Homo sapiens: one gene and its partner. The protein of the gene in region 1 interacts with the protein of each later gene in a biochemical or structural test. Each region holds a gene or a part of one and is shown on either strand. Other genes may lie near its edges.

What was found. The genes of interacting proteins can lie anywhere in the genome.
Region 2: the proteins of RAMP3 (region 1) and SLC31A2 form a complex in vitro, tested with the Homo sapiens proteins (one study listed by BioGRID).

Annotation. Positions count from the first base shown.
Region 1 is NC_000007.14:45,160,194-45,168,495, reverse strand, and holds part of RAMP3 (receptor activity-modifying protein 3 precursor), read right to left. Parts: intron 6,239-8,302; coding exon of another isoform or gene 6,075-6,238; intron 4,799-6,074; coding exon of another isoform or gene 4,630-4,798; intron 1-4,629. UniProt on the Homo sapiens protein: Accessory protein that interacts with and modulates the function of G-protein coupled receptors including calcitonin gene-related peptide type 1 receptor (CALCRL), calcitonin receptor (CALCR) and G-protein coupled estrogen receptor 1 (GPER1).
Region 2 is NC_000009.12:113,160,421-113,165,356, reverse strand, and holds the end of SLC31A2 (protein SLC31A2), read right to left. Parts: intron 4,352-4,936; exon of another isoform or gene 3,849-4,351; coding exon 3,659-3,848; exon of another isoform or gene 2,609-3,658; coding exon 2,440-2,608; 3' UTR 1,217-2,439; downstream 1-1,216. UniProt on the Homo sapiens protein: Does not function as a copper(1+) importer in vivo. However, in vitro functions as a low-affinity copper(1+) importer.

The DNA.
Region 1 (8,302 bases):
GTAATAAGTATAATTAAAAAGTACAAAACTTGTACTCCGAAAAGTATAAAACACTGTTGAAAGAATTTTTTTTTTTTTTTTTTTTTTTTGGAAACAGAGTCTCACTCTGTCACCCAAGCTGGAGTACAGTGGCACCATTTCGGCTCACTGGAACCTCTGCCTCCCAGGTTCAAGGGATTCTCATGCCTCACTCAGCCTCCTGAGTAGTTGGGATTACAGGCACCTGCCACCATGCCCAGCTAATTTTTTGTATTTTTAGTAGAGACGGGGTTTCACCACGTAGGCCAGGCTGGTCTCGAACTCCTGACCTCAGGTGATCCACCAGCCTCGGCCTCCCAAAGTGCTGGGATTACAGGCATGAACCACCATGCCAGGCCTGTTGAAAGAAATTTTAAAAGATCTACATAAATAGAAAGACATCCTATGTTAACACATTGGAACACTTAATTGTTAAGATGTCAGTACTACCTAAAGTGATATACAAACTCAATGCAATCCCTATCAAAATCGCAGCTGGCCCATTGCAGTAATTGATGAGCTGATCCTAAAGTTTCTATGGAAAAGCGAGGGACACAAAATAGCCAAAACAATCATGAAAAAGAACAAAGTTGGCCAGGCGAGGTGGCTCACGCTTGTAATCCCAGCACTTTGGGAGGCCATGGCGGGTGGATCACCTGAGGTCGGGAGTTGGAGACCAGCCTGACCAACATGGAGAAACCCCGTCTCTACTAAAAATACAAAATTACCCGGGCGTGGTGGCGCATGCCTGTAATCCCAGCTACTTGGGAAGCCTCAGGAGAGGCTTCCCAAGGCAGGAGGCAGGAGAATCGCTTGAACCCGGGAGGCGGAGGTTGCGGTGAGCCGAGATCGCGCCATTGCACTCCAGCCTGGGCAACAAGAATGAAACTCCGTCTCAAAAATAAAAAAAAAAAAAAAAGAACAAAGTTGTAGGACTCACACATCCCAATCTTACAACTTACAACATGGCAACAGTAATCAAGATAGCATGGTACTGGCATAAGGTTAGATAAATAGACCAGTGGAATAGAATTCAGAGTCCAGGAATACACCCTCACACTTATGATAAATTGATTTTCTACAAAGGTACCAAGACAATTCACCAGAGAAAGAATACTCTTTTCAACAAATGGTACTGCGACAACTGGATATACACTTGCCAAAGAATAAAGTCGGACCCTTCTCACCTCATACACGAAAATTAACTCAAAATGGATCACAGGCCGGGCGCCGTGGCTCACGCCTGTAATCCCAGCACTTTGGGAGGCCGTGGCAGGCAGATCACGAGGTCAGGAGATCGAGACCATCCTAGCTAACACACTGAAACCGCGTCTCTACTAAAAGTACAAAAAATTAGCCGGGCGAGGTAGCGGGCACCTGTAGTCCCAGCCACTGGGGAGGCTGAGGCAGGAGAATGGCGTGAACCCAGGAGGCGGAGCTTGCAGTGAGCGGAGATCATACCACTGCACTCCAGCCTGGGCAACAAGGCAAGACTCTGTCTCAAAAAAAAAAAAAAAAAGCATCAAAGACCTACATGTAGAGCTAAATTATAAAACTCTTAGATTACCCAGCTATTCGGGAGGCTGAGGCACAAGAATAGCTTGAACCTGGGAGGCCGAGGTTGCAGTGAGCTGAGATTGCGCCACTGCACTCCAGTCTGGGCAACAAAGCAAGCCTCTGTCTCAAAAAATAAATAAATAAAACTTTTAGAAAAATACAGGAGAAAATCTTTGTGCCCTTGTGTGAGAAAAAGCCTTCTTATACATGACACCAAAAACCCAAGAAACAAAAGAAAAATAGATAAATTAGACACGTCAAATTTTAAAACTTCTGTACTTCAAAGGATAGCATCAAGAGAGTGAAAAGACAACCCACTGAATGAAAGAAAATATATGCAAGTTGTATATCTGATAAAAGACTTGTACCCAGGTTACATAAAGAATTCTTACAACTCCATAATAAAGGGAAAAATAAAGCAATTAAAAATGGGCAAAGGATATGAATAGTCATTTCTACAAAAATATATATAAATGATCAATAAGCACATGAAAGACAATCAACATCATTAACCATCAGGGAAATGCAAATCAAACCACAATCACATACCACTCACACCCACCAGAATGGCTATCATCAAAAAGGCAGTCAGACGTGATAGCACACACTTGTAACCCCAGACATTTGGGAGGTTGAAGTGGGAGGATGGCTTGAGGAGTCCGGGGTTGCAGTGAGCTATGACTGCACCACTGCACTCCAGACTGGGCAACAGAATGAGACCCTCTCTCAGAAAAAAAAAAAAAAAGTGTCAGTGAGGACATGCAGAAATTGGAACCTTTATATACTACTGCTGATTGGAATGTAAAATGAAGCAGCCACGTTGGAAACTAGTCTAGCAGTTTCTCAAAATGTTAAACGTAGAGTTACCATATGACTACACAGTTCCACTCCTAAATTTATACCGCACATGTTCACACACAGATTTTTACATGAAGATTCATAACAGCATTATTCATAATAGCCAAAAGATGAAATAATGTCCATCAGCTGATGAATGGCTAGAATGTGGTATACCCATGTGATAGAATATTATTTGTACATAAAAGAGTGAAGTGCTAAAACATACCACTATATGAATGAACCTTAAAAACATTCTGCTGTGAGAGAAGCCAGTCACAAAATCTCACATATTATATGATGCCATTTACACTAAATGTGCAGAACAAGCAAATCTAGAGACAGAAAACATATTAGTGATTCCTTAAGGCTAAGGGGGTTGGAGGAAATAGGGAGTGACTGCTAATGGGTAGGGGGTTTATTTTTGTGGTGACAACAACGTTCCATAATTGAGTATAGTGATGGTTGCAAAATTCTAGGAATGTACTAAAAAATATTGATGTATACTTTAAATGGGTGAATTGTGTGGCATGTGAATTATATCTCAATAATGCTGGCTTTTTAAGGCATAATAAAAACTTTTTCAAACATACAAAAGGTGAAAGGAAATATCACCCACACACCCAAACTATAAGTAATGTTTAGGAAAGCCTATCAGAAGCCAATATGGACCTATGCAAAGGAATGGAGGAGATCAGAAATTTTAACTATGCAAGTAAATATATAGAATTTTTCTCAATGTCTAAATTCTGTAAAAAATAATAATCATGTATTGTGAGATTTATAACTTTGATTTAAATAAAATATATGACAGCAATGGCATAAAGTTCAGGAGGAGAGAAATGGAAGGTTCTTAGGCTATCCATGAATCAGTGTAATGTCACCTGAAGACAGATTGATGAATTAAAGATGTATACCATAAACCCTGAACCAACCACTGGAGTAACAAAACAAAAAAAAGAATTACACCCAATTAGCAAGGATGGAGGAGGAGGAGAAGGGCAAGAGGAAAAAGAAATGGAGTAATAATAATAAATACTAAGTCCAAAAGAAGGCAGAAAAGGAGAAAAGAGAGGAAAAGAATTGATGGTACAATGGTAGATTTAAATCTAACCATATCAATAATCAGATTGAAAGTAAATGGTCTAAGCACTTCAACTAAGAAGCAAAGATTGTCAAATAAGAACAAAAAGTAAGGTCCAACAGTAGGCTGCCAACAAGAATCCAACTTTAAATGAAAAGACTCAAATAGGTTCAAAATAAAAGAGTGGGAAAAGACACATCTTGCTACCACTAATCAAAAGAAAGATGGAGTGGCTATATTAATATCAGACAAAGTATGTTTTGGAGCAAAAAATATTACTAGAGATAAAGAGGGTCTTTTCAATACAATAAAGGGCTCAATTCATCAAGATGATGTAGCAATCCTAAATATGTATGCACCTAATAACAGCATCAAAACACACAAGGCAAAAACAGAACTACAAAAAGAAAATGACAAATCCACAATTTCACAATTATAATTGGAGAATTCTTTTTTTTTTCTTTTGAGACAAAGTCTCACTCTGTCACCGAGGCTGGAGTACAGTGGTGTGATCATGACTCACTGCAGCCTTCACTGCCTGGGCTTGAGCAATCCTCCCACCCCAGCCTCCTGAGTAGCTGGGACCACAGGCATGTGCCACCACACTCAGCTAATTTTTTTTTTGTTATTTGTAGAGACAAGATCTCATATTACCCAGGCTAGGCTCCAGTGATCCTCTCGCCTTGGCCTCCCAAAGTGCTGGAATTACAGGCATGAGCCACCGCACCCAGCAGATAATTGGAGAATACTCCTCTCTCAATAATTTACAGAACAAGTAGATAAAAATCAGGAAGCTATTAGAAAACGTGAACAGAGGAGGAACAGAGGTGTCCAGGGCACAGGCAGGAGCACAGTGGAGCTGGGTATACTGTGTGTGGAAGGGTGGGGTACACACCATTGTGGGTGTAAAGGAAAGAAGAAGTGACTTTGGAAAGGTAGACCCAGGGCAAGGTTGGAGCAGGATGTACAGGTCTTCAGAGTTTATTTAAAGTCTAATAGAAAGGCAGAAGTGGGTTTTCAGCCACAGTACTCTCCCACTTAACCCAAATAGGCCCTCTGAACCTTCACATCATGGAATCCTGGGCAAGCATCAGCCAGGACTGAAGCTGGCGTCCCTTCAAGAGAAGCCATACCATCTCTGCAGGAATGGAGGCCCGTGTCCTTCTGAAGCTTGACCGTGCCACCCTCCAGATGCCCCACTGGCACGGAGCCAGAAGACAGAGACCTCATCCTGTTTAGTTCCTGATTTGCTGTGTGACTCCAAGCAGGGCCCTTCACCTTTCTGGTCCTTTGTCTCCCCATCTGTAAAAAAGAGTGATTCTGATTCTGTGTGTTTCCATTGGTTAATAATTGTGCACCTACAAAATCTCTGTCAAGGTTAGCTTCCATCGGGCCCCAACTTCCTATTCCCACCACTGCTGACCCCAGCCTCCAGCTTGTCCCACCCATGAGCTGCTGCTCCACGACCCTCTGGCTGCTGGCAGCACCTGCCCCTCTTCCTCCACAATCAGACTGTCCCCCATTACCACAGCCTCCTTCCTGGACACCAGCAGCTCCCACTTCTGTGTATCCCAAGCTGCTGACCCCAGGTTCTCTTGTAGCACAGCTCTAGACCCTGAAGTGCTTTGAAGGAACCAAAAAGTAATAAGAGACTCAAAAGTGAAGCCATTCTTCTATAAGGCTGGTAGGGACCACCATTCATGAACCCACCCAGAAAGCCCTGAGGCTTGGGGGCTCTATCCCTAGTTCCTCTGGGCACTGTCATCTTTCAGGGCAGCCACCAGAGATAGGACAGACCCAGCAGAGTCAACTGCACAATAGGCTCACCCAGGCCACAGCCCAGGCCTATTGCATGGGAGCCTCTGGGGTGTGAAACCAATAATTCATGTTTGTTAAAACCTCCAAGTGATTCAGACATGGGGTCAAGGCTGAGACTGAGAGATGGAAAGCAATGTGTCTCCACTCAGATGTGCAGGCCATCACCTGAAGACCTCAAGCAATGTAGATTCCAGTCCAGCAGGCTTGGAGGCCAAAGCACTCATCTCTGCAAGCTCCAGGCAAGCCCCTTCTGCAGGTCCGAGGACCACACTCCAAGGAGTAAGGGCATGGGGGATGGAAGAGCAGCAAGCAGGAGCCAGAAGGCTCTAGGTGCTCACCTCGGCTCTGCCCCTGACCCTGACACTCACTCACTTGCCCCTCTGAGCCTCAATGTCCCCATTCAGAAACAGAACCAGTGGCACCTACCTGGCAGACCCTTGCCCCATTTCTCTTTCCCTTCAGCCAGGCTCTCCACCCCCCTCAGTACTGACCAGTGCTCCCTGAATGCCCTGTTCTAAGTGTGGCCCAACCCGCCAAGCCCTACAACAGCCAGACAGGGCAGGTACTTAAAGACTGAAACCCTGTGGCAGGGTGGGTCAGCTGCTTCCTCACTTAGACAAGGCAGGGGAGTCAAGGTTCAAAGCCAGGCCACCTGCCCACAGAGCTGTCTCCAGGTGGCATGTCACCATTGCCTCACACTGACACCCTCACTCCAATTCCCACCCTTGGTCTGCCAAGCAGGGCTGCATCCAAGGCTCACCTCCTTGCCCTGAGGGCTCCTGGCTGGAGTGGCCCCACTTAGCCCTGGTCCCCGATCCCCACCTTCCTTTCCTTCTCTCCCAGTGGGCACTTCCAAGCTCCATGTCAAGCCTGGGCTCTGCAACAGATTCTGGAGTACAGGTCGGCATTGATCCTGGGAAGGGCCTGAAAAACATCATGCCTCCTTCACCACCTCCCTCAGTTTAGAGATGGGACGATGGAGGCCCAAAAGAAAGCGACTTTCCCAAGGCCTCCCTCTGCCACCCTGCTCAACTGCACCTGCCTGCAGGTGAAAAGACAGCCCTGGCATAAGTGACCAAGGGGTGCAAGCCCCAGGGACCACGTGGAGTCACACGAGGACTAAGGCGGCCTGTGCACCTTCACCCTAAAGCTGCCCCTGCCTTGGACTCTGAAGGTTCGCCTAGCTGCTCTCCACATCCAGCTCCTGTCCTCACCCCTGGGTCTGGCGTCACTCCCTAACAGATTCTCTCAGCACCCTTGGGTGGGTCTCCTGAGCTCCGCCCACCATCCCAATGGGCACGAGCCAGGCTAGCCCCACCCTGTCCCTCCTGGCCAGTGCCCACACCTGCAGCCTGGTCCACCTGGACCCCTAGGTCTGAATCTGAACCCCTAGACCTGGACCACTTGGCCTGGTCCCCCCTCAGCCTACTCTGACTGTCACCTATCAGGCCACCGAGACCCAGCCCAGTTCTTCTTCCTCCTCTGCCTCCCCCTCCTTCCCCTTCTTCCTCTCTTCCTCCTTCCCCTGTCCTTCTTTACCCTCCTCCCCCTCCCCTGTTTCCTCTCCTCTCCTTCCTTCCTCCTCTTCTTGGAAGTCAGAATGAATCTGAACCACTGCCTTCTCCTCCCCAGCCCTTTCCTGGAGGTATTTGCCGCAGCCAGCCCAAGTCATGGCTGTTCCTACAGCCCACCTCCCTACACAGGGCCTGTGTCTGCCACATTTTCACATTAACTATGATGCTCTGAAACACAGCTCAGGGACAAGGTCCTGATAAGTATTCATTACCCTCAGGCAACTATTATTCTCCCTGAGCCCCTGATCTCCCTCACTGAGCCAGGCAAAGACAGCATCAATTCCCCACCACCCCCAGTGCCAGGGCATTGCCCAGCCCCTCCCCCACGGCTCTACAAATACCCACCCAGGTCGCACAGCTATCTAAAAAGAGAAGGAGGGGTCCCTGACAACATGCCCCTCCCTGAATCTCTGCATGCCCCAAATCTCTACATACTCCATAATCTTCACATGCCCCATCGCAAGGACCTGGCTCAGGCAGATTGTAAATGTGCCTTTGAGGACCACATGCCATCCTCAGGCAGGTGTTCTGGGATAACTCCTCTACCCACGGAGGTGCTATGAGGATGCCTGTGACAGCACCAGCCCTGGGCCTGCACAAGGCAGGCACCCTGAGAAACCAAGTGCCCTCCCCAGGGAGCTCATTTCTAGTGCACATGAGGCTTGAGGGGCTCCCAGCAAAACCTGACAACCCACCCAATGTTAGAACAATGGTGTAAAGACAGATTCCTGGCAACACCACAAAAGAGGGCCATTGCCAATCAAGCTACTGGCTGCATTAGTAAAGGTCGCAGGAACTGAATCAAAATAGAAATCCATTTTGGTTGGTTTCATTGGGAAACAAAGAACATGCCGGCCTGTGTTTCTTTTGTCTCAGGGACTTCCAGACGCCACTGAGAGATGATAAACAGCCAAACAGATGCATTTCCGCCAGAAAGGGCTTTTGTGGCTAGTCATTTGGAAATGAAACACAGGCGCTCTCCCCCTCCTTGACAGAAAGAGCATCGACGAGACTGGCAAGTGGCTGCCATGGGCCACGGTCAGTCGACCTTGGGAGGCTGTGGATTCTGGGCGGTTCTGCCCCTGGTCTCTGTGGTTGGGCAACTTCCTCTCTAACCTCCAGATTTCTGTTTCCTTATGAAGAATAGGTAAGAGCATGGAGGTCAGATAACCTCCAAGGAACCTCCAGTGCCAAAAATCTATGGGCCTCTTCTTGGCCAATCACCACCTTCAAGTCTTTTTTTTTTTTTTTTTTTTTTTTTTTTTTTTTTTTTTTTTGAGGCAGAGTCTCGCTTTGTCACCAGGCTGGAGTGCAATAGCATGATCTCGGCTCACTGCAATCTCCGCCTTCCAGGTTCAAGCGATTCCTCTGCCTCAGCCTCCTGAGTAGCTGAGACTACAGGTATGCACCACCA
Region 2 (4,936 bases), on another chromosome or scaffold:
AAAGAAAGTCACCACTGTAGTCCTAGCTCATCCCTGGGGCATGATGGTTCTGTGAGGACCAGTCCAGTCATCCTCTTGCTCCTGCAGGCTTAGTCCTGCAGTCTAGGAAGCCATGCAAAGAAGGTGAGAGGGTCCCTTCTTTCCATTGTTCATGGCACCTGAGGGATTCTTCACTTTGAGAGCAGCTTCCATTCCCTTAGAACTCATGGGACCAGGACTTATGCAGAGAACAGTAGTGAGAAAATACTTGTGGTCATTTTCTTGATTCCAGGATCTTCCAAAGATTATGCAATCAGTCTTTAAAAAAACAGAATAATTAATTTTAATAAAAAATGTTTCTTGATTTTAAATGTTTTAAAAGATAGGACCCAAAATTCCACTTCATCTGGCCTGGCATCATCCTTGCAGGCTTTGGATATGTCTCCCGTGTGCGGACCTGGGAGGCAGTGAGAACTAATTATTTCTTTGTTGCTTAACAAAAGGCGGTGCTGTTTGGCACTTTCACAGACTGGCTTATCTCCAGCAACCACTGCAGAAGACAGTGTTATCACCATTTTATAGAGGAGAAAACTGAGACTTAGAGAGGTAAAGTAATTTGCCCAAAGTTACATATCTAGGAAGCCTCAGCACAAGAATTCAAATCCTGGCCATCTGATTCCAGAGCCTGGGCTCTTGGCCAGCACAGCCTGACTGTCACTGGTTGGGGGAAGGGGCGGTGATGCTTTTAGAAACAGGCTTCTTGAGACACCAGGCAGCTTTCCAGTTCCCTGCAAACATGGGGGAATGCCCTGATCAGTCCTAAAGGTGTGACATAGTCTACTTTCTAGGGCAGTTATTTCTTATTGTAAATTAACTAGTGGCTATTATATTTGCTTCTGCCCGCAGGGAGAGAAGATGCTGAGTAATTGTGCCAACACAGGTGCTTAAAGTCCGTGTGACAGTTACTTTTCTTATAGCATGTACTCAATTAATACTTGTTACATGAATGAAGAATGACTTGACTTGCCTCAGTTGGCATTCTGGGGTGTCTACCTGGGTGCAGCATTTCAGGGCTGGGTTTCCCTGAGCAGAGTTGTCTTTGTAGCAGATGGATGGACTCTGTCCTCAGACAGGCTTATAAAGAGTACTACCAGTTCTATTAGCCCCACTCAGCCCCTGCAGTTGTTACAAGGGTTCATGTGCTTTCTGTTGGAATTAGGAGAACAGAACAGTCATAGACTATTTAAAAATATATATTTACTAAAATGTATTTGTTTGTTTTTAATTCCCAAAGCTTACAACCATCTTTTCATCTAATCTGTGAGGTATTTAGTATACAGCAGTGATTTTCTCTCTTTCCTTTTTTATAAAGTGAAGAGGTTCAACTATCCAGAGAGTCCCATCTAACTCAAAAAATGTAATGGCTTTGGTTGGATTGCATCTTCAGTCAGTACCTGCCCATGGCTTAATCAGTATTTTAAGTGAATGAATCATGTTTCCCCACTAGATCATTACGAGTAAGCAGTAAGTAATAAATAGAGAATATTAAGTATTGAACATTATTAGATGCAGCTTTTTGTTCTGCATAGAAGAAAGATGAGGATAAAGGAGGGCATTGAGGCCACGAAGAGCTTCCCAGACACCCACGGCCATCAGATCATCTTCTTCCTGCAGGCAGTGCCTTCTGGTGGAAGGAGCTCAGTCTATCAGAGAATAAACCAGGAGCCTGAAAGCAGTCCTGTGTCTCTGCCTTTAATCAGCTGTCACTTATTCTCTCCCCAAGAAAGGGAAATAGGTCTCAGCAGTTTCTGCCATCCATCATGAATCAATGAAATCATTTCATTAAAAATTTTTTTGTATGAATGTGCAAAATTGCCAACTAGGAGTTCAATGGGAAAAATAAAAAAAACTTAGTTTGTCAACATGATCCATAGACGAGATGATCTTCATGTGTTCCAAAGGCAGAAAGGTGAGAAAAAGGATCTAGCTTGGTCTCTGTCCCTCAAAGACAGAAGAGGTCAGGAAGTCCAATGGGCGATGCTCCTGTAGATAAGGCACAAAGCAGGAGAGCTGAGGGTGTCCAGGTTCCATGCCCTGCATCACCAAGAACCCTTCTCCCTGGCTTGAAATCTTTGGAAATTCCTGGTTTGAGTCACAGAGAAGCATTGTCATGGGCTCAGTAACCCTGCCACCCCTGTTATCTCCATTCTCCCTTTGGTCACAGCAGCTGTCTTAAGACACAAGACCATGCCTGGGCCCTACGTAGGCTGGCTGAGAAGGAAGGTTGCTGCAATGGCTTCCGAACTCCAGGGAGCAAGTGCTGGCTTCAGCTCAAAGTTTCCAGGGGCTGGGAATAAGGTGGAGGAATAGCCATCAGAAGAAAGGGCAGTTGGAAGTATAGTGTCTGGAAGAGGGGGCTCCATGTCCCTCCAGCCTCAGTGCCTGCACGTTCCTCACCAGCTAAGCTGTGCTGAGAAGTGGGTAAGCTAGGTAGTAGCCCACAGCAGAGCCCAAGACCACACCAAGGAAAATCCAGGTGTTGTAGGACATTACGGCCAGCATGATGAAGTAGCCGATGACCACCTGGATGACATGGATTAGAGACTGGCCAAAGTGACACAAATACCACCTAGATAAAAAGGAGAAGCAAGTTAATCCTGGTAATGAGCTGGTAATGAGGAAGCTGGGAGTAGATATCAGGGAGTAGAAAGCTGTTGAGTTACGTGACCCGATTGATTTATAACTTGTATGCTTAACCCAGGAGTGATTTCTTTCTGCCCCTCCCACCCCCGCCCCCAGAAAAAACTCGAGATTTATTTTTAAAGAGACATATCTTCACTACATTTGGTTTCAAGCTTCCTGGCATCCTAGGCAAAGGGGAAAATGAGGGTATCTATAATCTGTCTTTCTGATAAGGAATAAGAGAAAATCATCAGTAAGGCATATTTCCCCCCTGAATCTACTTCGGGAGGCAGTATGACAATGGAAAGAAAAAGCATGGTCTTAGGTGACATTATCAGTTCCTAGACCTGCCACTAACTAAAAGTGGCCTAGACAAATGTCTTAACCTCTCTGAACGTAAGATTCCTTATCAGTAAAACAGGAATGAGAATACTTCCCTTGCAGTGCAGTTGTGAAGATCTGAGACACCCATGTAGGGTGGCTAGTGATGGAGCGGGCAGGCTTATTAAGCACAGGTGAGGCTGGGGCTGGACAGAGGGCAGAACAGGGACCCTAAATGGTTGCCTGATTCGAGTGGGAAGGGAGGAGAGGAGAGCTTGTCATCCTCCTCCCACCAAGTGGGATACATTGCTTCAGGACAGCTGCAGATCCCCTCCTGGATATGGGAGCCTAGTGACCCATGGAACTGGTGAGATTTGGGGGAGGGTGGGTGGCCACCTCATTTGCTAGATAGGGGCCTGCACCTGAAGATCACTGTTCCCTAAAGAAAGCCTTCTGAGCCTCTCAAGTGGCTGGCTGTTCACAGAGTGCTTTGGCCTGGGCATCAGGAGACATGAGCTCTAGTTCACTTGGCTATGTGTAGCCACTTTGGCAAGTCCTGGTCCTTCCCTGGGCCTCGCTGTCCTCTCTGTGAAGTGGGGCTAATGCTGTCTGGGCCAGCCTGTCTCTCAGGGTGAATGTGAGGCTTCTGCCCCTTTCCCATACCCACTGCCTGTACCTGTGGTGGGTTCTGCCAACAGGGAATGAATCTGAGCCTGCAGAGTCCCCGTCTGTCTCTGCGATGGTCTGCTGGCTGATGGAGGTTGGCAGGTTCACCAGTACCTGGTTGAGCAGCTTGGCTTTGCCAACCTTGATGCCTTCATACAGTACAGCCAGAAGCAGGAGCACCAACACCGAAAGGGCCATGCCTGTCAAAGGAGGCAGAGTTGTGGAGACCTGGCCAGGCCAGCACTGTTTCCCTTCCAGCACCTCCACCTGTTCATGGAATCCACTCCATCCACCTCTATCCTGCACCTTCTTCCCCACCCTTGCTGAGTTCCGAACTTCTTCACTGTCTTCACCAGACTTTTCTTAGCTGGAGTGTGGCTTTGAGATCAGGAAGAGAAGCCACCTGAAAAATCCAGGGGCTGAGGGTGAAGAAGCCACGTACCATTACCCCACCCACTCCCCCAGCAGGCTGCACAAATCTGTCGTGACTTCTTGTTAAGTGATGAGTACTGCAAGGTCCTATTTATATGTAAGTATGCAAAAAATGTCTGGAAGGAAAGATAAATAGCACAAGAGTAATAGTTATCTCAGCAAAGTAGGATACAGGTGGTTTTTATGTTCTTGCCTAACTTTCTAAGGTTTCTTTTATATATATTACTTTTATAATAGGGGAAAAACCCAATAAATTATTTTACCAAAACTATCAAGTGCTTATTAGAGCTGCTGTGTAAAATTAACTGTTAATTACTACTTTTGTTTCACTAAGAGGGATAATAAGTGGTCCAGCTAAAGTATTTTACTGGACTCTGCGACATAATAAGAGATATATATCCTGTTTCTGCCCTGGTTTCCTGGCACACGACTTCTAGAACCCTTGGAAACGCTGTCAAGTGGTGTCTTTTTATATGCTAATGAGATGACTGATGGCTGAGGCTCCTGGATGGGGGCTGGTTGCCAGGGGAGCCAAACTTGTGCTTGGAGGTTGGCACTTTCAGCCCCACTCCCTACCTCTGGAAGGAGACAGGGACTGAAGGTTGAATTGATCACCAGTGGCCAATGAGGTCATCAATCATTCCTCCATATGAAGACTCCATAGAAACCCAAAAGAATGCAGTTTAGATAGAAGGAATAAGTTGTTGTATTCGACAGTACAGTAGGGAAATTTATAGTTAACCATAATTTATTGTATATTTCAAAATAGAATTGTAATGTTCCCAACACAAAGATAAATGTTTGAGGTGATAAACACCCCAGTCACCCTGATTGGATCATTACATATTGTATATAG